3 separate regions of the Homo sapiens genome follow, and regions 1 and 3 are each reported to be linked to region 2. The links are microRNA targets in miRTarBase. Many come from high-throughput screens and were not tested one by one. Region 2 holds a microRNA gene; each other region holds the end of a gene's coding sequence.
Evidence for each region. The annotated mature microRNA hsa-miR-3915 reads UUGAGGAAAAGAUGGUCUUAUU and lies in region 2 at 5,172-5,193, opposite strand. An mRNA with a match to its seed (bases 2 to 7 or 8) in the 3' UTR can be bound and repressed. Matches are read on the target gene's strand: a 7mer-m8 pairs with bases 2 to 8, a 7mer-A1 pairs with bases 2 to 7 and ends in A, and an 8mer does both.

Region 1 (8,092 bases), not on the chromosome of region 2:
TGCAGCCTTTGCCCCCCGGGTTCAAGTGATTCTCCTGCCTCAGCCTCCTGACTAGCTGGAATTACAGGCGCGTGCCACCATGCCTGGCTAATTTTTTCTTTCTTTTTTTTTTGTATTTTTAGTAGAGACGGGGTTTCACCATGTTGGCCAGGCTGGTCTCGAACTCTTGGCCTCAAGTGATCTGCCCGCCTTGGCCTCCCAAAGTGCTGGGATTATAGGCGTGAGCCACCATGCCTGGCCCCTTACCATTCCTTGTTATTGGTGGTGGACACCTCTGACTTCCTGGTGGTGAGGTGGCACAGAGGGCATTGACTGCATCCTGTAATGCCTTGCGCCTTGGGATCAATCATTCCCCACCTTGGAGACACAGGTGCAGTCCCCACCTTGGAGACACAGACCTTGGAGAGGCCAGCTCTGACCATTTCCTTCTGTCTGTCACATAACCTAGATGACTAAGAAGATCAAGAAGCTGGAGAAAGAAACCACCATGTACCGGTCCCGGTGGGAGAGCAGCAACAAGGCCCTGCTTGAGATGGCTGAGGAGGTGGGCTGTCTGTGATCTGCAGCCAGGGTGGGGGTGTGCACTTAGCGCATATCAGGCCCTTTCCTGTATGTTCTACCCATCAGTGACACAGCTAGCATGAGGTAGAGGTGAGATTTGCACACAATGTCCAAGTCCAAAGTTAATGCTGTTCTCTCCCCATGGGAGGTGGTGAGCCCAGTGGTAGGTCTCCAGTGGGAGTGAAGGGAGCAAATGGAAGAAAGGAATAAAAGAGCAGAAAAAAACGGGTGCCAGTGATGTGCCTGGTTTACATGTAAAGCAGCCCAGGTAGTTTGTGATTTCACAGCTTGTAATGTAGAAGAAAGGAACTAACGATGGAGCAGCAACTGCAAGCCAGACCTTGCTGAAAGTTTTTGGGTTTTTTTTGTCTTTTTTGCTGCTGAATGTTTTTAGGTACGTTGTTCATTGAACCTTCTCTTGAGCTCTGAGGATGGTATTAGTAGTCCTGTTTTATAGATGAGACAGGCTCAAAAGTCAAGTCCTTTGCCAAGGTCACGTGGTAGATAAATGGAGGAATACGTTATCTCCAAGCCGTGCCCCTTTTCTGCACCATGCTGCCCCACCTGACAGCCTAGTCATGGCTTCAACTAGGACTGTTTCCTAGAGGGGGCCAGCTTTGGACTCGGTCTGCTCTCAGCCTTGTTAAAGTGTTTGCCGCCAAGTGGTGATGGTAAGTGGGAGGTTGATGGGGCACGGCACTGAAGGTCTCATTTCTTTCCCTAGAAAACAGTCCGGGATAAAGAACTGGAGGGCCTGCAGGTAAAAATCCAACGGCTGGAGAAGCTGTGCCGGGCACTGCAGACAGAGCGCAATGACCTGAACAAGAGGGTACAGGACCTGAGTGCTGGTGGCCAGGGCTCCCTCACTGACAGTGGCCCTGAGAGGAGGCCAGAGGGGCCTGGGGCTCAAGCACCCAGCTCCCCCAGGGTCACAGAAGCGCCTTGCTACCCAGGAGCACCGAGCACAGAAGCATCAGGCCAGACTGGGCCTCAAGAGCCCACCTCCGCCAGGGCCTAGAGAGCCTGGTGTTGGGTCATGCTGGGAAGGGAGCGGCAGCCCAGCCAGGCCTGGCCCATAAAAGGCTCCCATGCTGAGCAGCCCATTGCTGAAGCCAGGATGTTCTGACCTGGCTGGCATCTGGCACTTGCAATTTTGGATTTTGTGGGTCAGTTTTACGTACATAGGGCATTTTGCAAGGCCTTGCAAATGCATTTATACCTGTAAGTGTACAGTGGGCTTGCATTGGGGATGGGGGTGTGTACAGATGAAGTCAGTGGCTTGTCTGTGAGCTGAAGAGTCTTGAGAGGGGCTGTCATCTGTAGCTGCCATCACAGTGAGTTGGCAGAAGTGACTTGAGCATTTCTCTGTCTGATTTGAGGCTCAGACCCCTCCCTGCCCTTCAGAGCTCAAGACAAGTAATACACCCAGGTCTTGACTGCATTTGTCTTGTGAGCAGGGCTTGCTTGGTCAGCTCAGGCCCTCCTAGCTGCTCTGGAGGCTCCTTTGATTCTCTAGACCTGGAAAAGGTGTCCCTAGGCAGAGCCCTGGCAGGGCGCTCAGAGCTGGGGATTTCCTGCCTGGAACAAGGGACCTGGAGAATGTTTTTGCGTGGGATGATGTGCTGGTCAGGAGCCCCTTGGGCATCGCTTCCCCTGCCCTTTGGTAGTGCCAGGACCAGGCCAATGATGCTTCTCAGTAGCCTTATCATTCACAGGTGCCTCTCTAGCCTGCACAAATGATTGACAAGAGATCACCCAAAGGATTATTTCTGAAGGTGTTTTTTTCTTTATTTCTTTTTCTTTTTTTTTTTTTTTCTTTTTCTTTTTTTTTTGCACATGACAGTGTTTGTATTGAGGACCTTCCAAGGAAGAGGGATGCTGTAGCAGTGGTGCCTGGGTGCCTGGCCTCCAGTGTCCCACCTCCTTCACCACCCCACTTGGCTCCTTTGCCATCTTGATGCTGAGGTTTCCTGTTTGGTGAGATCAGGTTGTTTGTGGTAAAAGAAAGGAAAGGGCTTCTGATGGCTTTGCCACAAGCTTACCTGTGGGTTTCAGTCCTGAGAGGCCACCACCAGTTCCCATCAGCACTGTCTCCATGCAGCAGTTGCTGGGTCCCATGTCCAGCTGCCTCTTTGGCTTCATGGGTTTTTCTGCTTCCTGCCCCCACCCCCACATGTGCAATCCTCAAGATTTGTCCTGATTCTATTTCCTGGCACCTCCCTGCCTGTCCTTGGGGATTCTACTTCTTCCTGTGTGGGAGCCCATAGCTGTTGTCTAACAGGTAAGAAATGAAATTGAACTATTGACTGGGCCCCAGAAATCCATAAAATGGCTGCAGACAGTTGTTTCTGTGTCCTGTTCTACCCCCACTCCAGTACATAACTACTATGTACTGTGTAGAGCCATTCTATATGCTGAATGTTCTGCTGTTGCAAACTTGCCAGGGTATTAGCCAGTGTTTGTGCCAAGCAGTTTTCTGGGACAACAGAATGACTCAGACCAAGATGGATAGGATGGTTAGGGCTTTGCTTCTTGCTGTTTTTCTTTGAAGCTAGTTCATTGTCCTGCAGGTCCCTTCATCTTCCATACCTAGCCCACTCTTTTAGCCCTTACCTTAAATCTCTCAGATAAGTTGGTTCACAAAGAATGTTAAGTACTGAATCATGTGTGACTGAGACCAGAGATGGCAAATGAATGGCACACCATTTCTCCTTCTCCTGCCCCAGGGCAGGTACCACTGATCTGCATCAGAGTTGCCTGCTATTCTCTGGTGTATCCTTCACATCTAGGTGCCCTCAAGCAGCTGTGTGAGTGTTGAGATCTCTGCCATCTCTGGCTGAGATACTGCTGTCCTGTGAAGTGTTTCCCATGACCTTTTTCTTCCCCTTTGAATCCCTCTGTCTGGAGTAGTCCTTGCCTCTTCCTGCTCCAGTAGGGCCTTTTCCCTACCCCAGCCCCTGTGCCAGGCTAAGCTGGTACAAGAGCTGCCAACCTCACAGAGTGTTTGCTAGGCGAGAGAGGTGCAGGGAAGAGGCAGAGGTATGCACCTTCCCCCTTGAAGAGAGGGGAAAGGCCTACAGTGGCCCACATAATTGCCTGACTCACACTTCAGCTACCTCTTAATGCCTGTGGAGGGACTGGAGCTGCTGGATCCCAGTGTGGTGGTGTAGGAGGCCACAGTGAGCAGGTGGCCCCAGCTGGGTTTCCCAGGTCAGGAATGTGGGCCCCAGGCAAGGTGCAGCCTTTGCTCACAGCTCCATCCATGTCTAGACCTTCAGGCCAGTCTGCAGATGAGGTTCCCTACCTTTTTCTTCTCTTCATTGACCAAATCAACCAATCACTACAGCTGCTCTGCTTCTGCTTTCCAAAGTAGCCCAGGTCCTGGGCCAGATGCAGGGGAGGTGCCTATCCATGAGTGAAGGCCAGTGTCTTCCTCACCTGGGTGGGTCCCACACTTGTGACCTCAGTTTTAGGACCAAGATCTGTGTTGGTTTCTTAGATTGCTAGCTTTTCCTCCAGGGGACCACAGCAGGTGAAGCTCAAGAGCGCATGGCTCTGCTAATAGTAAATTGTTTTCAGGGCCTTGTCCAGCTGAGAGCTTCATGTCCACCAGATTCTGAGAGGTGTCAGCAGCACTTTTTTTTTTTATTTGTTGTTTGTTTTCCATGAGGTTATCGGACCATGGGCTGAGCTCAGGCACTTTCTGTAGGAGACTGTTATTTCTGTAAAGATGGTTATTTAACCCTCCTCCACCCCATCACGGTGGCCCTGAGGGCTGACCCGGAGGCCAGTGGAGCTGCCTGGTGTCCACGGGGGAGGGCCAAGGCCTGCTGAGCTGATTCTCCAGCTGCTGCCCCAGCCTTTCCGCCTTGCACAGCACAGAGGTGGTCACCCCAGGGACAGCCAGGCACCTGCTCCTCTTGCCCTTCCTGGGGGAAGGGAGCTGCCTTCTGTCCCTGTAACTGCTTTCCTTATGGCCCAGCCCGGCCACTCAGACTTGTTTGAAGCTGCACTGGCAGCTTTTTTGTCTCCTTTGGGTATTCACAACAGCCAGGGACTTGATTTTGATGTATTTTAAACCACATTAAATAAAGAGTCTGTTGCCTTACTTGTTTCTCTCCTGACCTGTGTATTCCTTTGTTTCTGGATCTGATCCATTCAGCCCCTTCCATCATCACTGACTTGTTCAGGTCTGCTGCAGAGCGCCCATGGTGGTTCCCTGGTATCTTACATATTCCACAGTGTCTTTGAGCAGTCGCCACAGCCTCAGGATGCTGGCATATTCACTTGAGCTGCCTGAGTGGAGCCCTTGGCAAAGTTGGCAAGACCCTTGCCTCAGAGAGGATCACACACACACAAAAAAGTTTTCCCTGACCTGGGGGCTCACAGGCTAGTGAAGGGAAAAGGTACTTTTAGCTATAGACAGGTCAATGGTGCTGAGAGCAGAGAGGAGGCCCCTGCCCCCTTCAGCAAGGTGAGGGGGTGATACCTGGAATGGCCTTCTGAACCACAGGGCAGGTAGAAGATGAACGTCATTTAGTGATTAAATGGTACAGCTGGGAAGCAGGTCCATGGGACTGGGAGAGGGGGTGAGGCTGGGCCCAGAGTCTGGGTACCAGGTTAAGGAATGTGGGCTAGATCCAGAGGGCAGGGGGGGCAACTGAAGGTGTTTCAATAGGAAATTGATAGGCTCCAGCAGTAAGGCAAAAGGCATGGAGCCAGGCATAGGCCATTTGAGGCCCAGGTTAAGAGGGGTGGACACTCATCACTGCTATTTGGGTCTGAGCTGTGGGTAGGCTCCTATAGCCCTGGCCTGCCCAAGGGAATTCACAGGGGCCTCTAATTGTATGCATTCCTTAAGGAGAGCACATTCTCTGTTCAGTTTTTACACCCCCCATTTACCCACCTCAAGCATGGGACTCCTATATGGGAGACATGCTGCTGGTGGCCTCACCCAGCACCCTGTTCTCTCTGGGTCCTGGGTTGGTCAGGCACAAAGGATGATATGTGCTGAATGCCCAGGAAATGGCAGAGACAACCCACCTGCCCTTCCCTCCAGGCCTCCACAAATAGATGTGCCCACAATGACTGTGACAGTCCCAGCAGAGCCTCTGACCCTTCTAGCTGGGTCCTGATACATGTTTTCCATGCTGGCCATGTTATTTCTAGTCGCAGATCCTCTGGAGGGTGTGGGGGGGGTGCCGCCCCAACTCTTGGAGATTCCAAGCAAAGCAGCTCTGAGAATAATGAGGTTTCTGACCCCCCAGTGAAGCAGCTGAGGATGGGAACCACAGGGGTGCTCCCTCTGTCAGCAGCATTACCACTGTCTACTCTAGCAGCTCCGGTGGGGAAGGAGAGGGATTTCTGTTGTCCCCAGTCTGGGCCCCTGGTTATTGAAAAAGTTCGGAATTACTCTTTACCCTTGTGGAGTGTTCTGAGTGTTGGAAGTACCCAGGAAGAAGCCCTGAGCAGGTGCCCTCAGGAGCAGTGCCCATGGCTCCCCACATCAGCCAAGAGGCCCAACCCCAGGAAGCCACTCCTGCCCGGGGATGGGGAAGGTGGGCTGGGTGGCTGTGTGCACTGCCCTGGGCCAGCTCACTTGAGCCTGCTGAGCCGCCTGGCCAAACATGAGCCTCTCTCCTGTTGTATCAGATGCTGTTCTGGGGACCTGCGCCAGGAGCCTCTGCCAGGGCTTTAAATAGCTGCCCCCATTGATCTGGCTGCAGGCAGCAGCAGTCACACTGGGTCAGCCTCCATCAGGTGCTCAGGTTTCCCTGAGGACTGGAGTCAGGTGCCAGGGAATCGCGTGGTCTACCTTATGACCTGGTGCTCCCCACACCTGTCTCCTAGGCCTGGGGGGTGGGGAGGACTCCTGTCACTTCATCTGCGGCAAAATACAGCCCCCACCACTTACCAGAGAAAACTGTCTGGCATTGTAGAGAGAGGGGTTTTGCCCTCAAAAGACTGTTGCTTACTTTCAGTAGAATGGGGAATGACACTGGTATCTTCCTTAAGGGTTGTTATGGGGATGAAATGTATGTAAAGTGCTCAATAGGGCACTGGACTCACTCCATTGATGGCTGTCTTTGCTCGAAGTGTCTTCCTGATGCTGCTGCTGTTGCTGCTTGTGCTTCTTCTGTGCTTACATTCTCTCTCTCTCACTCACTCACTCTGTCTCTCCTCTCCCCCGCCCCACCCCCTTTCTGACAAAGCCACCACCATTTTGTAAGGAACTGTAGCTTCTCTCTGAAACTGCCGGGAAAGGGAAAATCTTTTTAAAATAGACATCACACAACCAACAGGGTCCCCTAGGTTCAGGCGGGGAGGTGAGGTCGAGTGAGAGGAACTGCTTAGCATACGCGGGGATGCTCCTCCCATCTCACCCCACCGCGCTAAGGAGAAGGTCACTTTCTCTTTAAATGCAAATGAACTCCCTCCAGCTTAGCTTTCACCCGGTGGTGTTCCCGGGAGGAGAGGGCGGAGGGCGGAGGGAACTTGCACCGAAGCATCACTCGAGACCCCAAACCTCCAGGTCAGTAGCCCCCTGAGGGAGTGAGGGCGGGGGCGGAATGACGCGGGTCTGACGCTCTGTCTTCGAGCGCGGCTGCGGAGCTGAGCGATGAGTTTGGCACATGGCTTTGGAGCCCGGGCTTGGGAAATAGATCCCCGGTCGCCCCAGCCGCTCCTGGGGAGCACAGGCTCCGGCTCCAGTTCTTCTATCAGGTCCCTAATTGGGTCAAGCTGCTGCACGGAGAGGCAGAGGATGCGCTCCTATCTCCCCTCCCCACACCCGCAGACCCCGTCAGTGGCAGCCAGCTATGTGTCAGTGTAAATGCTTAAGCGCCACCCACCCCCCCAACCCCCCCAGTCCCAGAATTCGAAGTTAGGCTCGGTAGCAGCAGCCTGGAATGAGACCCCCAGAGGAGGGAACCCCAGCCGACCGGAGGCTTGGGGGGCGCTGCTGGACCGGGGACCTCGGAGCAGCCCAGCCACAGGCGCAGCCTTTGTCGGAGGCCCAGGCAGCCAGCGGCCAACCACCCAGTCCACCCTGGCTGCAGCTGAAGCCCAGCAGGGACTTTCCGACTGGGAAAAATGAAGCAGCTGAAAGCACACCCGCGGGACCTATAGGGAGTCCCTAATATTTTCGGTTGGGGGTGGGTGGAAGTGGAGGGATGCCGGTGTCTATGTGGGGGAAACCCACAATGAACCCTGCCCTGTATGCTGCGGCTTCTCCTACAATTACCCACACGCTGGGGCTTTCCCAGGCGCCCCTACCTGCACCTTGTCCCCCTCCCATGCTGACAGGGTTTGTTAGCATCTGCTTAGGCCCCTGATAAATAGAATAGGGTTTAGTTAAGACATCCCTAATCTTCGGCTGGGCTTCTGCAGCTCACCTCCGTCTTGTCTCCCACTACATTTCCTCTGCCAGCCCCGCCCCCCAGCCACCGTGACAGGAAGCCCCAGTAGCGCCAAGATAGTTGTGACTGGTCCCACCCTTTCAGGAGGGGCCTAGGTTTTCAGGCAGAAGGGG
Region 2 (11,042 bases):
GGACATTTCTCATCTGAATTCCTTTGTTTGGTTGAGTTGCTATTTCAATTCAAAAGTGAAAAATGGCTACTAAAAGAACATTTGGATAAAGGTAACTGAGGAAAATCTGACAAGCCTGGGAGGTAAATCTTAAGTATGGTGACCCTTGAATTTACTGGAGCCAGGGATAGAATATGAAACCTAAACTGTGCCCATCAGTATTGGCGTTAAGAGATAGAGTGTTCCCAGGCGTATATCCACTAAGGCGGAAACAATTATGTGCCATGGACCACACAATGCATCAGCAACGGGGCTTTATGAAAGAGGGAGGCAGAAAACAACCCATCTTATTTTATTGCAGGTTAAGACCCTATAATACACTTCTCTGCTAAATGAATTTTATGTGTAATGAGCCCTCTGAAAATCCCTTATTTCTTGATTTTTCTCTTACTTTATCAACAACTATGCAGTTAAAACGTATAAGCAACTTACTCTTACTGATGTTGAAATGGAAATCACATCAAAAACCATTGAAAAAAACAAAAATCCATTATGAGGCAGAAATGTGGCAGAGTCCTACTGAATAGTGTTTAGCCAAGGGTATGGCTTGGTTCTCAGTTTTACACATTTCTACAAACTGAACTGAAGCACCATACTATAAAATGGTGTACCTTATATCTTCACTGTATAACATATGGTACAGGGCGGATAAACCTATTTTGATGAGTTATGAAACAACTACTGGAAGTTTTTTCAAAAGTATAATTCTTACTTCTATTTAAATGATCCTGTAATAATCTCCTGTCTGAACTCAAGGAATTTTTAGCTGTCACTTCCAAAGGGGCAGGTTACAGATGAGGAAACTGACAGATAGGTTAAGTAACTTGTCTGAGGTCACAGAAGCCACAGTACTGAGTGTCTGGGATTTGACCTCAGATCCATTTGGCTACAAGTTCATGCTCGTTCATAATGGTATTCATTCAGTAGGGCATTCATTATAAAAGATATGCCTTCTAATTTGTGCTACACAACCTACAGTGAGATATCCAGATGCCGAATCCCTTTGGAGTCTTTTCATATTTTGTTTTAGCAGAAGTTTGACTAGATTTAACATTTAATCTAATCTGCTTCACAAGGATGTGAAGCTTAATGTTATAATTTGATTCAAAAACATTTGACACTGTAACTCTGTATTTGTTTAATCATAAAACGTCAGCAAATACTTGCACTTCCAGATTAAGAACATGTGGCCTTTGCAGGACTTATTTTTAAAAGGTAAGTATGACTGATTTGTTCATTAAATTCTGCCTTTGCAATTGTGCTGAAAGTGTAGTGAGATTTTAACACGAAGAAGCATGTTCTTCTCTACGCTATTTCAGTCAGTTTCCTATATTATTTATTTGTGTGAGTATACAAAGTGCTAATGAATAAATCTGGAAAAGCCTTTTGTTGTTGTCACTGCTGTTATTCTTTGCAGGATATTATTTAATGTCTTTTTTTTTTTTTTTTGGCAGCTTAATAAACTCTGTACTCTCCAGCTCCCACCAGTCTGTTCAATTGGGATACCAGAAAATAAAGAGCAGGAGTTCTAAGGAGCATTCCAGCGTAACAGTGTTCCTTCCAGCATTCATCACATTCCCAGGCATTCCTTGGTAGCTTGAGGTTTCCTCTTCCTTATCGTTTTATACCTCGCAGACTCTGAGCTCCTTGAGGTGGGCTCCTTACCTTTGAGGTTAATGTCTTGCACAAATATCCCAAAACTGAATACTACTACTGTCGTTATCAATAGGTGGCTTTCCCCACCCAACTTTTGTCTTAGAACCATCTTTTTTGGATCTTTCAATCTGCTAATCATTACATAAAGTATAAACTTCCTGCATTCCCACTTCAGTTCTACTGTTGCCCAACTTTGTAATATCTGTGAACAAACTCAATCTTGCTGTGCTTTAGTTTTCTCACCAGTGAAATAGAGATAATAGTACAGACTCTCCTAGACAGGTAACTGCTAGGGTCAGATAGATCAATAAATGTGAAAGTGCTCTTAAATCTGTGATGAATTATTGAGATGCTTGTGATAGTAAGGATTTAGAGCTCAGTCGATAAAAAAATCAGCCTTTATTCCAGATGTGATAAATCTGGAGCATGATAGAATTTTAATATAGAACACAGTGAAACATTTTAGAAGGACAATTAATGATAATTTTTTTTGCATTTTTTTCTATACTTGATAAAGCTTATGTTTTATACAAGAATTGAAAATTTTTACCTTTACAATTTTAAACAACAGGGCCATATTCCAATAGGTATCCTTTTTTTCTTTTTCTTTGAGACAGAGTCTTTCTCTGTCCCCTAGGCTGGAGAGCAGTGGCGCGATCTCGGCTCACTGCAACCTCCACCACCCAAGTTCAAGGGATTCTTGTGCCTCAGTTTCCCAAGTAGCTGGGATTACAGGTGTGAGACACCACACCTGGCTCTTTTTTGTATTTTAGTAGAGATGGGGTTTCACCATGTTGGCTGGTCTCATCTCAAACTCCTGACCTCAAGTGATCTGCCCGCCTCGGCCTCGCAAAGTGCTGGGATTGCAGGCGTGAGCCACTGAGCACGGGCTCCAAAAGGTATCTTATTTGAAAGCAAGTGCATAGAAGATAAATATCCCTCTATGTCTCATGCCAACTCTTGACATCACAACTTTTCATCCACAAGAAATCACAAATTCTAACGTACATACCTAATAAAATGCATAAGATAATGTAGGTGTAACAGAATAGGTAGTAATGGGGACTGTGGCTAAATGAAGAGCCTGTGCTAGAGAAAACAGGGCAACTTGACTCCTGCTCTGGTTACTATGTAGAAAAACAGACTAAGGATCATCAGATCATTTGCTTTCTCTAGAGAGGTTAGAAATTCTTAGTTCATGTCACATTTTTTTCAATTTCAAACAATGGTAGCTAATAAACTACTATTAAATACCATAGGGACTAAATAGAACTTTATCTAAATACATCTGTAATTTTAGATGCAATAGACCAATTCCTAGAAAGACACAAATGATTCGAGCTGACTCCAAAACGGAAAATCTGGAAAAATGTAATGTTGAAATTCCAATTAAAAATGGACATTTTTATGTGTATTAAATACATAAAAATTTAATTTTAAAATTTCCCATTTGCAAATTCCAGTTATGAAGCCAGTTACCAAGCCTGCATAATCAGGTACTTAAACCTAGCAAGCATATTACAAGAAAGGAAAATAACAGGCCAATCACTTTCATGGACGTAAAGGAAAAACTATGAATCAAAGAAAATCTAGCAATACACAAAAAAGATTATACGTCTTATCCAGGTTTAGTTTATTACAGGAAGAAAGGCTTTTTTAGCATTAGAAAACTAAGTCATGTGATTTGACATATAGCAGAATAAAGAAGAAAAATACGACCATCTCAAATGATTCTGGAAAAATATATGATAAAATTTGGCATCCGGTAGTGATAAAACCTCTTAGAATATTAAGAACAGAAGGTATCTACAACAAACCTACAGGAAAGATCATACTTAATGATTATTTATTAAAGTTCTTCCCTCTGAGACTTAAAATGAGAAATAAATATCCACAATACTCCCATTGTACTAGAGTATTTATACAGTACAATATGTCAGGGAAAATTAATGACATGAAAAATAATTGGAAAGGGAGAAAGAAAACTGTCATTACTCAAAAACAACCTATATATGTACATCTGAATAATACTACAGATAATGTATTCAAATTATTAAGTAAATGTAGCATGGTACCTGGATACAAGACCAAGAAAAAAAATCAACTGTATTTCTTTATATCAGCACAAATAGAAAATGAAATTTCAAAAATATATTCATAACAGCAAAAATATAAAAACCCAAGAAATAAATCTCAGAGAAAGTTTAAGAGCCTTTACTTTAAAAACTATAAAACATTATTGAGAGAAAATAAAGACCTAACTAAATGAAAGGATTGAAAGACTTTACATAATAAAAATGTTGATTCTGTACAAGTTGATCCAGAGAATAGATGAAATCCAATTAAAACCACAGCAGATTCTTTTTGGGGGCAGGGTTCACAAGCTGTTCTTAAAATTCATATGGAGATCGAAATGGCCAAAAGCAGTCAAGATAATCTTTAAAAAGGAAGAAAATAAAATGGCTTTTACTGACCAACTGACCAAAACAAACTTAATGTGACTAAACTCTAGACAGGCTTTTATTTGACTATAGGCTCCTGACCTCTCTTTTCTTAGAGCGCTTACTTTAGGGAAACTTGCAACCAAAAACATATTCTCTGCCTCTTTGAGATGTAAATCTTCTACAATCCGGGAATATCTTTCTCAAGGACCTAGGAGCCATCTCTTTGAAATGTAATTGTTAATGATAGCACGCCTATCTCCCAGTCTCTGTGGGACAGTAGGAGCCTAACTTCATTAAGTGCCAATTAACAATCACAGATTGCCTAATCACCATCCTAACCCCCTAATATCTTCCAGTATTTTTCTACTAGCTCTCCTCAGTGCTTAAATTCTCTCCTGTCTTTCTTTCAGTAGAAATGATTTCCATCTCTCTCTCCTATGGCAATAGTCTTGATCCATAATTCAGTAGTCTTGAATAAAGTCTTTCTTGCCTGTTTGTCTGGTGCATTTTTTCTTTTACAATATTACCAGATACAGGCTGGGCCTGGTAGCTCACGCCTGCAATCCCAACACTTCGGCAGGCCGAGGCTGGCAGATCACCTGAGGTCAGGAGTTCAAGACCAACCTGACCAACATGGTGAAACCCTGTCTCTACTCAAAATACAAAAAAAATTAGCCAGGCATGATGGTGGGCACCTGCAAACCCAGCTATTCAGGAGGTTGAGGCAGGAGAATTGCTTGAACCAGGGAGGCGGATGTTGCATTGAGCTGAGATCTTGCCACTGCACTCCAGCCTGGGTAGAAACAGCGAAACTCCATCTCAAAAAAATATTACCATATATTAAAACTTGTCATAATGCTATAGTAATTAAAACAATGTGGAATTAGCATGAGGACAGGCAAGTAGAGAAATAAAACTGATTAGAGTCCATAAACTGATCCATGCACGTATAGGCATTTTATTTCTAATATTTTCGTCAAAGATGACACCACAGAATATTGAGGAAAGGATGGTCTTATTGAAAATCTTTGCAATAAGACCATCTTTTCCTCAATATTCTACAGTGCCAACTTGTTGTTTCAGTTGGATCTATATGGGAAAAAATGGACATTCATCCCTTCCTCATACCTGTAATAATAGGTGGATTGTAATACGAAAGGTAAAACAAACAGTTCCTATATAGCAACCCAGGACCATAGCTTCAGAATTTTAAAGTAGAGAGTTTTATTTTTAAACTGAGGACAAAAGTACACTAAACATAACAGAAAATATTGAAGTGAACTATGTTAAATTTAAACTTCTGTTTATGAAGAGATATATCATTACGGAGTGAAAAGGCAAGGTACCCATTCAAAAAGAAAAATGTAATATAAACAGCAAAGAATACCCAGAATATATATATTTTAAACTAAAATAAATCAGTAAGAGAAATATAGAAAATCCAGTAGAAAAACAGGCATTTCAGAGAAGAGTTCATTTAAATGGCCAATAACAACTGAAATAGTATTCCGCCTCACTGGTCATCAGTATATACAAATGAAAAATGAGAGATGACATTATAAAGTCACCAGAAAGGCTCAAATTAAAAAGTTTAACAAACAAGTATTCAAGAAGATATGAAGCAGTTTGTACTTTCATTTACTACTGGTGAGAATATGAATTTATACAACTTTGGAAAACCCTTTGTTAATATCTTGAAAGCTAAATATGCATATACCCAATGATTAAGAAATGCTATTCTTAGGTAAATACCTAATACAAAAGTTTACATATATACACAAAAATATACGTACAATTTATGTTGATAGATGAATTATTTGTAATGCTTCCGAACTGGAAACAACCCCAATTTTCTGAACAGAATATGTAAAATGTGGTATATTCATACAAAGTAATTCTATCCAGCGATGAAAATTAATAAAGTAATGCTATATGCAACATAGTGAATCTCACAAATATAGTATCCAGTGAAAAAAGCCAGTTAAAAAACTGCATATATAAAAGTTTCATTTACATCAAGTTAAAAATATAGCAAGACTAACCTGCAGCATTATAACTCAAGATACATGTTACCTTTGAGGAGATGGGAAGAGTTTATGATACCATAGGGCTTGATGGAGGTTTCCTGGTTGCTGGTAACATACTATCTTTTTCTGGATGTGGAATCATAGTATGTTACTTCTGTAATAAGTCTTTAAGCTATAATTATAACTTATGTCCTTTGCTTGATACTTCAATTTAAAAAGTACCATAAAGTTTGCATTTTTTTTTCAGAACCATCAACAGATAAACAGATAACAGGTTATATATACATAATGCAATGTTATTTGGCCATAAAAAGGAATGAAATATAGCTATTTGCAACAACATAAATGGAACTGGAGGTCATTATGTTAAATAAGCAGGCACAGAAAGACAAATACCACATGTTCTCATTCACATGTGGGAGCTAAAAAATTGGATCTCATAGAGCTAGAGATTAGAATGATAGATACTGGAGACTGGGAAGAGTGTGTGGATGGAATGAAGAGAGGTTGTTTAATGGGTACATACGCTTAGATAGAAGGAATAAGTTCTAATGTTCGATAGCAGAGTAGGAAGACTATATAATTATATACAACAGTGTAACAAAATATCACATGTACTCTATAAGTATGTACAAATATTATGTATCAATAAACTTAAAAATTTTTTGTAAATGTATTAACACTTGCATTCATAAAGAATATTATTGGCCGGGTGGCCGGGCGTGGTGGCTCACGCCTGTAATCCCAGCACTTTGGGAGGCCGAGGCTGGCGGATCACGAGGTCAGGAGATCAAGACCAACCTGGCTAACACAGTGAAACCCATCTCTACAGAAAATACAAAAAATTAGCCAGGCGTGGTGGCAGGCGCCTGCAGTCCCAGCTACTCGGGAGTCTGAGGTAGGAGAATGGCATGAACCCGGGAGGCAGAGCTTACAGTGAGCCGAGATCGCGCCACTGCACTCCAGCCTGGGTGACAGAGCAGGACTCCGTCTCAAAAAAAAAAAAAAAAAAAAAAAAAAAAAAAGAATATTATTGTTCCAGCATACTTGCTTATATTTCCCCTGTAATTTTGTATGGTGGGTATTATGATCACTGTTATCTTTGAGTTTCATTTGATAATTTTTATCATGAGAGAATTTATTGTTCAACTCATAAATTATAAAGTCAGAATAGAAAACAGATTGAGTAATCCAGACATTGTGTTCTTTCAAATCTACCTAACACCCTATTGGCCAAATGTATTACAACAGACCGTGTATTAACATAAATTGAAATCTAGCGTTAACTGTATACTTACAGCACATTGGCTTTGGATGTTCAAATTTCATTAGAATATTCAACATTTATTTATACTTGATACAATGTGCAGTTGAAAAAACAATGCACATATCAAAGCTGATCAAAACATACTCAAAAGTTTTCTAATAACTGAATCATGTGCCATTTTATATTTAAGTAAATAAAATAAAAAATCCAGTTCCTCAAGCATACCAGTCACAATTCAAGTGCTCAAAATAGCCAAAGGTGTATAGCAACTTCCTTACTGAACAGTGTCGTTCTAGAAAAGAAAAAAATTTTATATACTAATGCAATCGAGTGTGACAGGTGTTAATATATATATACTGCTTATATAAACTATATACATATATAAACCATTCTCTTCTAGAACAGTGTTGTTCTAGAAGAGAAAAATATTTATGTACTAATGCAATTGAGTGGGACAGGTGCTAAAATAAATAAATATATATGTTTATATTATATATATTTGTACTTGTAAATTTAACTCATTCATGCAAATGCTATATCTATTCATATATATATGAATAGATATTGCATTTTATACAGATAGATAGTATTTGCATGAATGAGTTAAATTTACAGGTACGAATACATTACTGTGTTACATAGGTTTCTGTATTCCCCCGTTGCTGATTAGTAAACCAAAACTGAAAAAAATCACATAATTTTCACAAGGCCACATAGCAAATTTCTACTATGAATTTGAGAGATTGGGAGAAATCTCAGGTTGAGTTGTCACACATCTGAATACCAGTGTCAGCCTTGCCACCTGCAAGCTATATGAACTTGGATTTAACTTCATTATGCATTGGCTTTCTCATTTGTGATATAGGGTTGGCATTACATACAAAGCATGTAAAACTCCTGAAAAATAATAATCTAATAATTATAATTATTGCTTCTTGGGCAACAAATGTTGATGCTTAGCTTTGTGGATTATTTCCATCACATTTAAAGTTTTTTTTAAATGCATTTAATTCACCAAATATAAAATTAGGAACTAGAGCGAAACATCAAAATGTTTCAACCATATTCCTCTTCATAAATAACTTCTATTTCTTAATTTGATAGGGTCTAACATTCTATAAAATTTTCTTTCTCATACTATCCCGAAGATATGTACTATAAAAATTTCAGTTACCTAACTGACATTTAGGTGATGAGAGAAAAATCTGACTTTATCGTCTTTCTGAACAACTACCTTTCACAGTATAGCATTTTCTTTCCAAGTGGCTTTGTTATTTTAACATTCTCTTTGTAACTGAGATATAGCACATTCCCTTTGTAACCTGTGTGATACTCATGTTACACAAGTTAAAACTATTAACGACACTAACAGCAATGTCCAAAGAGATGTTACCATTAAATGTCTGTCATTCTTATTGTCTACTTATCCAGATTTGTCACCTTTAAAAATTATCACTGTTGGTCAAAATAATTGGCAGAATGTAGTATTTGACTTCTTTATATTTTGCCATTATATTCAGATTGTTTTTTCTTATGAAAGTAATTTTGAGAATCATGCTTTTTAAAGCTGAAGTTCTCTACAGAATGAGGGAGAATTATGCTTCTACTAGATAAGATTGGGCAGTATTTCCTTTTATTTTCTTGCACTCCACCTGTATTGGAAGGGACATTGGAGGCTATCAAGTCTAACTTCCCACTCAGTATGTCACCTCTTTTAAAACATACTTGAACATGAGATTCCAGTTTGTGTTAAATATTATTAATGAAGAACAGCTCACCACTTTCCACAGCTCTTATCGCATTGTAAGAATGCTCTGGGCTGATGATGATAATAATAGTAACTAATATTATTATTGCTTACTATATTTCAGTGATTTTTAAATGCTTTAGCTTCTCAACTACCCTTTTACCCTTTACAGATATCTGATAATGTAGGTTCTAATACAATCTTCATATTAAAGATGGGGAAACTAAAGCCAAGGATGGTTAAGTGACTTGCCCAAAGGTATACTGTAGATAAGGAACAGAGCAGGAAGGGTCTATTTCTAGAGTTTCTCCTCTTAATTACCTTACAACAAAAAGCTCTCCCTTTTAAGTCAAAAAAATCTTTCTTGGAATTATATCCAACCGTCTGTTCATAGGTTCATTCAGTTATCTTACAAGAATTACTGATTACTTGTATCTGACAATGCAGGCAAGAATGTGTAAGACACATCTCATGTAATTTAGATTCTAATAAAAGAGTAAAGCACATTAATATTAACTGCAAAAGTATATGATCGGTGCCCAAACAGACACAATTAGGGTACAGACATGGCACAAAGAGGGAGTAGTCATCACTAGGTAGAGTGGCCAATTTCATGGAGGAAAACTTGAAATGAGTTTTCTATACATAGATGAAATTATCAAAGCAGATCTTATGAAGCAGAGTCGTCTGTTTAAACCCGGTGGTATGTGCAAAGAGGTCGTAACATACAGGGTATCAGAAACAGCTTGTATGAATCAAATGCAGGTTGAGGGACATAAAGCAGATAACATGAGACAAGTCTATAGAGACTGGTAGGAGTCAGGTAATCAAATACCTTGTAGGCCAAAGTATCAGAATCTGGAAAGTGACTCAGGATTTTAAGCAAAGGAGAACGATTAAACAGGCTCTTGGGAACCCACACTGACTTCAATGTGGAGATTGGATGGAAGAGCGGTAAGACTGAAGGCAAGGACTTTGGGGGCTTATGATATGGCCTATACCTTGAGAAATGTTGACAAGAACAAAGATGAAATAATAAATACAAGATAAGGTTGAGAAATATTTTGACATTGCATGCAAAGGGCTCATAAGGGAAAGGACAGGGATGAATTTGGGGATGACTCTAGGTTTCTGGTACAGGTGTCATGATAAGTGCCAGTGCAATGACAAAAATAAGAAATTCAGTAAGGAAAGCAGGTTTAAAGGAAGGCAATGTACAGTGAGGTAAGTTTCATCTTGTTGAGTTTGAAGTGTTGTTTGGACTTCAAGGATGTGTTCAGAAGATAATTAGAAGAAAATGGACTCAGGAAAGATCTGGGCAGAAGACATCCAGAGTTACCAACTTCTGTCTGCTTCTGATATTATGACATTTTGAAAAACCATAGAGAAAGTGCCTTCCTTTTTCACCATCACAATAGTGTTCATGTGCCATTTCCCTATGATTAGTTATTTTTTAATTAAATAATCGCCCACTCTACAAATATTCTTCACAGGATGCTGCCATCTGAGAAAATCCTGCTAAGATAGAGTACCAATCGTGGGCGTAAAATACAGTGTATTCAAATCAGCATAGAGTATAATTATTAGTTCATGTAATCTAGACACTATATCACAGTCTGTGATTGCATTAACTAAGAATCTGTATCATCCTTAATATCAAGCTTGTTTCAAAGTAAGCATGTGCACTCTATCTCATATGTGCTTATGTTTATGTATATGTATGTATATACATATATATACATATGCACAAAGATGTACGTATGTATATATATAGAAACATAAAGAGATGTATATAAATTTAACTATATACACATTTATACATATATTTTTATATAGACAAAATTACATGTATTTTTACACAC
Region 3 (7,000 bases), not on the chromosome of region 2:
GAGGCCGGGAAGAGGTGGATGGGAAAGGAGACTAGCGGTCGGGGAGGCAGTTGTGGAGCCAGAGAGGTGGTCCCCCCTTCCCATATCGCCGGCCGTCCACTGGCCCCAGGCTTGGGGTAGTCCTCAGGAGTCGGGCACCCCCTCAAAGCACTGTTGGAGATGGGGTGAGGTTGGGGACAGGGCACCTACTCCACTCTCAGAGCCCTTCTCCCCAGTCAGAGCCCGGTGGCTAGTTTCTCTCCAAACCATCAGCACAACTCCCCGCCGGGCAAGAAAGAGTTAAGCCCTCTCCCCCTCCCCCCACACCAGCTTTTTATTAATTTCTCCGGGCGTCGGGCGGGAGGGAGGGGATTAGGGCCATAAATCCTATCTCCGCCCCCTCCCCTGACAGCCCGGCACCCCAGCCCCGTGCGGTCCCCCTAGGGATAGGGGAAGAAAGGCCCTTGTCGCTTAGCCCTGCCCAACCCCACTCAGGGTCCCACCGCGGGCCCGAGTGGCCCTAGCCCCAGTTCCCGGTCCACCCCAGGGCGCCCGGCCCCTCACCTCCGGCATCGGTCATCTTCAGCGTCTGGCGCCCCGGGAACCCCTCAGGCCCATGGTGCTCGAGGCGGGGGCCGGGCAGGAGAGGGGTGGGGGGACCGTCACCCCGGCCGCGGGGGGCTCCGGGCGGGCTCGAGCCGCTCCATCCCGGGGGTGGGGGTGAGGTCGGCGGGAAGGGTCCCAGAGCCGGGGGAGATGGAGGGCGGGGGATGTGGGGAGAGGGAACAGGTTCGCTGGAAGCAGGAGGCGCGGGCGGGGCTGGACCAGGAGACCTGACGGGAGGATGCTCCGTGTGTGTGTGCGTGTGCGTGTGCGTGTGTGTGTGTGTGACAGAGAGAGAGAGAGAGAGAAGAGCGAAGAGCGAGCGCCACCTCCCTCCCCGCCCCTGCCGCCCGCCAGGCCTGGCCGGACGCGGGGCCCCCGCCTGGCAGGGCCGATTCGCGCGGCGTCGCGTCGGCAGGGGTCCGCGGGGGTCTCCGGGGAAGGGGCGTCGGGGTGGGGGGCGCGTGGCGGAGAAGCCGGGCGCCCAGGAGACAAAGAGCGGGAGGGAGCGAGGGGGCGGGGGCGGGGGAGGGCGGCGGGGAGGAGGCGGCTGGGGCCGGGGAGCGGAGTTGCAGCTACTTCTCTGCCCGCGGGAGACGCGGCGCACCGGAGTCTGCGCGGGTGGGAGCGGCTCCGGGGCGGTCCCGCCACGGGACCCACGGGGCTTCCGCCTCCTCTGCCGGGTCCATCAGGGCTCCCGATTAGTTCATTCATTCAACAAACGTCCGCCGAGCAGCCGGGGCGCCGAGGCTGGAGGGGACAGCGGTGAACAGAACCCCCGCCCCCTAACTGCGCTCAAGGCCAGTGGGCCAGTCGGGGGCTCAGACGAGTGGGGAGGCCCTCACGAGCCTGGGCGCCATGGGCCCAGCTAACAGAGGGCACTTCTTGCCGGAAGGGAGAGCGCACCCCTGGCCCGGCCTGGGTCCAGGCGGCCGCGGCGGGAGCTGGGCTGGGGGATTCCCAGAGGATGTGATGTGTTGGCTACAACTGCGGGCCAGGGTAGGGAAGTGCCAGGGGGTGTTGGGGGTGGGAGGGCAAGAGGGGAAGATAAATTGAAGCTGGGGAGGTGCAGGGGGCTTGCACTTTATTCTACCAGCCGCCCACCCCGCCGCCCACACACACACACACACACACACACACACGCGCGCGCGCGCACACACACAAAATTAAGAGGAGGGAGGGGCTCAGGTGTGCATTTAGGAAGCACCCTTGGCTCCCCTGGAGACAGGGTTACAGAGGGCACTCTGAAGGCAGGGAGACCCGCTGGAGGCTATTGAGGGCCGGTGGCAGTGGGCATAAAGATTACAGATTAAGCTGAGAGCCCTTCAGGATGCAGGCCTGAAGAAGCTGACACCGAAGAAGCTGACAGGATTTGGGGACCTGCTGGACTAGGAGGTGAGGGAGGAGGGGTCTAGGATGGCTGTGGACCTTGGCTTGAGGCAGGAAGCCCTGGAGCAGGTGGGGGTGGGGACGGATGAGATCAGACTTGGACCCAGTGCGCTGATGGTAGTGGCAGGCCAGCCAGGGAGGCAATGTAGGGATCCACAACCAGCTACCGCACGTCACAGCTTGGCAGGTGCCAGGCGCTCTCAGATCATCTATTGTCACCCTCACAATAAACCCACAAGGTGGGTGTTTCCATTACCCACTGCCTCAGAGAAAACAGAGACTTAGAAGAAGGAAAGTGCTTTGCTCAAGAGCAAGTGGTGAAAGGCCAGGCGCAGTGGCTCACGACTGTAATCCCAGCACTTTGGGAGGCCAAGGTGGGTGGATTACATGAGGTCAGGAGTTCGAGACCAGCCTGGCCAACATGGTGAAACCCTTGTCTCTACTAAAAATACAAAAATTAGTCAGGCATGGTGGCGCTACTCTGGAGGCTGAGGCATGAGAATTGCTTGAACCTGGGAGGTGGAGGTTGGAGTGAGCTGAGATTGTGCCACTGCCTTTCAGCCTGGCCAACAGAGTGAAACTCAAATCTCAAAAAAAAAAAAAAAAAAAAAAAAAAAAAAAAAAAAAAAAGGCAAGTGGTGAAGCTGGATCAGGGGTCTAGAGTCAGAGGAGAGGTGTGGAGTCTATAGGACAGAGTTCCCTGATGGCCCACAGGACTCTGCAGTCCGAGGCCTCCGGGAAGTGGCCTGTTGAACCAGGACAATCTTGTGACTATGAGTGAGGACAGAATTAACAGCCTTTAGGGTCTGAGGGTATCCTAGGGGATTTATAGGAGTTTGGGGGTCTCTGGGTGTCTTCAGAATCTTCTGGCAGCCATGAGGCTAGATTGTGGAAATCTGGGGAAGGGGTGGGGTTTCTGTTGACAGCTGTGGGGGCTGCATCTGGCTGTCTTAAAGGGGTTGTGCTTTGTAGGCATCTGGTGAGATCTGAGTGGTGGGCTGTAGTGGGGGGCTTGATTATATAGACCCTGTACATCCCAAGGGGGTGGGGAGATGATGGGTATGTTTGCCAGGCCATAGGACCCAGGAGGAGCCCCTGTTCCCCTATTCCTAGTGAGGCCTAAGCTTCTGAGGGTTGGCAATAAGTTGCCTTATTGGCAAGTGTTGGCAAACCTACTCAAGCTTCCAAAATTGGGCAAGTGAGTGGGGGGATAAGGAGGGTTTAAGGTGACAGGCCCACTTACAGCTACTTGACAAAGTCCCAAACATGGACATACTGTGTATCATGGGCAAGTCACAGCTCAGGCTTGAGAAACTCACAGCAAAGCCACACACACCTCCAGGCACACAACACACTTGGGCTTAAATGTGAGGGGTTACTTGGCCCACTGTTTGAAACATACTATGTATAGGCCCCTCACCTAACACACAGGACAGACGGGGAGTGGGGGAGGGACAGAGGGACCCCGCCCTGGATGCTTAGCCCCCATCGGCCCAGCAGAAACCCTCGAAACCTTCATGCCTGCCTCCCCACCCAGATTAAGACTACAGATTACAGGAAGGTCATGCCACTTCACTTCTTGGCTAGGTTTCCTGAGCAGGGCCTTGGTGGCCCTGGGGTTCAGTGACTTCTAACTCTGGAGCCATGACCTCTGACCCTGTGGTTTGGTGGTCTCTGATCTTGGGGATCAGACACCTTGATCCGTCTTCAGCATCCTTAGGGCTCCCAGAGTGTTCCAACAATCGTCCACATAGCAAAGATGCCTTGGGAAGAGTATTCACTATCCCCAGGTTTCCAGGCAACCCTCAGGTGGGAGGCAGGATTGGACTGGCCTGAGGTGTAGACCTAGGGTTTTTGAGGGATAGCTATGGGAAGCCAGAATTTGGCTTAGCATGAATGTGACCTGTGTGACACAGCCATCTACAAGGGAAGCTTCTGGAGCAGACTGTCCCTGGGGGTGCTGCCACTCATCTGGATGTTGTTAAGGACCCACCAAGGTGACCTTGAAGGGCTCTGAAGTTGGGACTTCATTCCTTATGGCAAAGGTGAGAATTCCCTAGTGCCACACCACTGAGTGCAAGTGCCTCCATGCTTCAGGTCTCTGACATCTGCACACCAGCACCCCGGCAAGGAAAGGCTGGCCCTGGGGCCTGCCATAAGCTCCTGCCCCATTCCCTGCTGGCTCTCACCCCTCTGGGACTTCACCAAAGCTTGTCCCTGGAACTCTGGCACCTAGACTCCCAGACCCATTAGCATTTGAGCTGGTGAGTCAGCACACAGGCCTGCTGGCCCAGCACAGGGGCTGGGGCTATTTCAGGCCACTTGGCCCGCCCCAAAGGGCAAACAGATCCTCTAGGACCCTGGGTACTAAACTGCCAGGCAGTCACCTCCCACCCCCAGCAATCCTTTGATCCTTTACCTGCCTCACACCGGGTGCCTCTTGAGAGTGTCCCCACAGTTTAAAGGCCTTCTGGGGGAGGGACTTGGGGTTCACCTTGCTGTATTTAGCCCATCCTTTGAACTTCTTAGAGGCCCTGAAAAACGAATGCAGACTAAACAAACTCTCTAGAAACCCTCAGCCCTGCCCAGGAGGACTGGACAAAAAGCATGGGTGCTGATGGCTGGAATGGGGGCAGAAAAGCAGTTTGCTGGAACCGGAAACGGGGGGACACTGTAGGAAGTTCCTCAGGGTTAGAGGCAGCACTGGTGGGAGGGGACCACTGGGGCAGCCTGGCATCCTTGATCCCTGCCCACTCCCCACCTCAGTGAATCAAGAAACCAGGCAGCAAGGCTCTGGGGGCTGCTTTTATGGGGACGACCTGACAGAGGGCATGGTCCGTACAAAACCGGGAACAATACATACATATATATATTATATACAGAGATGCGGCCCTCCCGACGGCTGGGCAGGGGTGGCCGCTGGCCCAAGCAGCCCGAAGCGGCCCCGCCCACCCGGTTCCGCCCCCTCCATCTGCCGGGGTGAAGTGCGCGAGCCCAGGACTGAGACAGCCAGCTCCTTCAGGGGATGGGGGCACATCTGGGGATAGGAAGGGGTGGGGACAAGAAATACTGATCGAAGTCATGGTCTATTTACAGGGGACAAGAAGCCAAAACGGATGGGATGGGTGGTCTGTTTTTAAAAAATGAACAAAAACCCAGTTAGGGCAGGGGCATGAAGTGGCAAAATGAGATGGATTTTGAAAGGGGAGGGGACCTGGGGGAGGTGGTCTCACCTCCCTTGGTCCAAGCCCCAATTTGGGGTTAAAGTGGGGAAACAGAGTCGATTTCACTTAGAAGGCAGGCTGCCAGCAGGGCAGCCCTGGTCTCCAAAAAGATGAGTAGTAGTAAAATTTTGCCCTCCAGTCAAAACATTGGAAAACCAGTAGGGGGTGGGGGCGAGGCTGACTCCCTGCAATGTCAGTAGGCTTCCAGGCATCGCCCTGGGCTGGGCAGACAGGGCAGCACAGGATAGGACCTGACTCTCCAGGGAGAAATGTTCCCCTTGCCTAAGACCAGGGTCGCTGTAGCCAGACCCCCTTTCCTCCCTGGCATTCCCAGGCTTGACCAGGAAACCTGGACCCCAGAGAGGCCACATAACAGTTCCAAGACGAGGTTATGGCTATTTGGCACCTGGAAGAGGGGAGGCACAAGGAGAAATTGAGGGCTGCTGCCCCAGGCAATGGGGAGCTGGGGACCAGGTGTCCTGAACTCTCCCTTTTTCCCACTCTCACTCCCCCTTTTCCCGAAGGACACATGAGAAATCAGTGCAGGGCCAGGGCCAGGCCCAGCCTCCGGGCTCTGGGGTGGACTCTATCCCTCCCAGGACAGGGAACAGGGATGGGGGAGGTGTTGAGGCAACGCCCCCACCCCCCAGGCGGGAGGGTCAGAATGCAACAGAGACGGCACAATGATGGGGGGAGAGGGAAGGGCCGAGAAGGTAGAATCTCAAGTCAAGAGGCCCAGGGGCCACCCAGGTGCCCCATGGGCAGGGAGCAGCCCCCAGTTGGCAGATGCTGGGAGAGCCCCAGCCCCGTTCCAGTCCAGAGACAAAAGCTGGAGTGTGTAAAGTCTGGCAGTTTGATCTGCAGGTGCTTGTGTCCGTCGACCACCAGGCCAGCCCTCGGCAGCCCTCGGCCTCTGTGCCTCAGCCCCATGGGGCAAGAAAGAGGCTGCCCTTCTAGCCACCTCTGTCTGCCCAGGCCATCTTAAGGGGGCCTGTGATATGAGCCCTCTGGTCCCTGAAGCTGGGGGAGGTGGGGTGGAGGGGTGGGGGGAGTCGGGGCACCTGTCCCCAGGCTGGAAGGGGGAGGGGTGGGGTGTTGAGGACAGGGGAGGGAGGACAATGGGAGGGGGGTTAATTATTGTCCAGTCATGGAATGATTCCTGTTAAGTAGAATTGGAATTCCTCAGTGTTTGCAAGTTTCCTTCCAGTTCTGAGATCTGGAAAACAAAGGAGGGTAGGGGGTCAGGTCTGGACACCAGGCATGATCCCAGCCCCTTCCGCCCCCCGGTGAGGACATGGCATCCCCTCCCTCCAGGACCCACAGGGTAGGGGCTTCAATGCTGCTCCCTCCACTGGGCCCTGCCCACAGGGCGCCCCAGGCCCACCTTGTCCAGGAGCTTGTCCATCTCCTCCTTTCTGGCCAGCTCCGACTCCTCCAGAACCCGACGCTGTGCAGTCTCCTTTTTCAGGAACTCGATCTCCCTGGGCACAGGCAAGGGACAGATGGCAGGTAAGGGTGTGTGGTCTGGCTTTCATCCAGGGTGACCCAGGTCCTCAGCTTTACCTGGGCAACTCTGTCCTTCCCTGTTCTCAGGTCAGGAGGCCCCAGGTTTTCCCAAAGCCTCTGGGGGTCTGGCTCTGTGCTGGCTCTGATGCCTGGTCATTCCGGACCGGGTGTCCCCACCATGGGGCCCTCCAACTTCTGTGCCTCCCTACTCAGCTGGAGGGATGGGGAGGGACTGTCCCCAAAAGCCTCTCAATGCTCCCTGGGCCCAGCCCGCCCAGCCCCCAGCCACGTACTTCTGC

Region 1: the mRNA of TXLNA is a reported target of hsa-miR-3915. Seed matches in the 3' UTR shown: 7mer-A1 at 2,743-2,749 and 7mer-m8 at 3,992-3,998.
Region 3: the mRNA of PPP1R9B is a reported target of hsa-miR-3915. Seed matches in the 3' UTR shown: 7mer-A1 at 6,291-6,297.

What each region holds. Positions count from the first base shown.
Region 1 is chr1:32,193,617-32,201,708 of GRCh38, forward strand. It overlaps TXLNA (taxilin alpha), which reads left to right. Exons shown (of 11, transcript NM_175852.4): 10 at 449-544; 11 at 1,286-4,669. The coding sequence ends at 1,579. It overlaps CCDC28B (coiled-coil domain containing 28B), which reads left to right and starts at 6,979. Exons shown (of 6, transcript NM_024296.5): 1 at 6,979-7,093. RefSeq lists enhancers at 5,638-6,196, 6,197-6,754, 6,967-7,046, 7,305-7,824, 7,737-7,956 and 1 more.
Region 2 is chrX:32,578,540-32,589,581 of GRCh38, forward strand. MIR3915 (microRNA 3915) reads right to left here and starts at 5,213; the gene lies at 5,117-5,213. The region is part of intron 13 of DMD (dystrophin); the gene reads right to left. RefSeq lists an enhancer at 4,042-4,669.
Region 3 is chr17:50,128,974-50,135,973 of GRCh38, forward strand. It overlaps PPP1R9B (protein phosphatase 1 regulatory subunit 9B), which reads right to left. Exons shown (of 10, transcript NM_032595.5): 8 at 6,995-7,000; 9 at 6,580-6,676; 10 at 4,764-6,411. The coding sequence ends at 6,358. It overlaps SAMD14 (sterile alpha motif domain containing 14), which reads right to left and starts at 1,187. Exons shown (of 10, transcript NM_001257359.2): 1 at 544-1,187. RefSeq lists silencers at 903-962, 1,203-1,282 and enhancers at 3,437-4,179, 4,060-4,129, 4,180-4,921.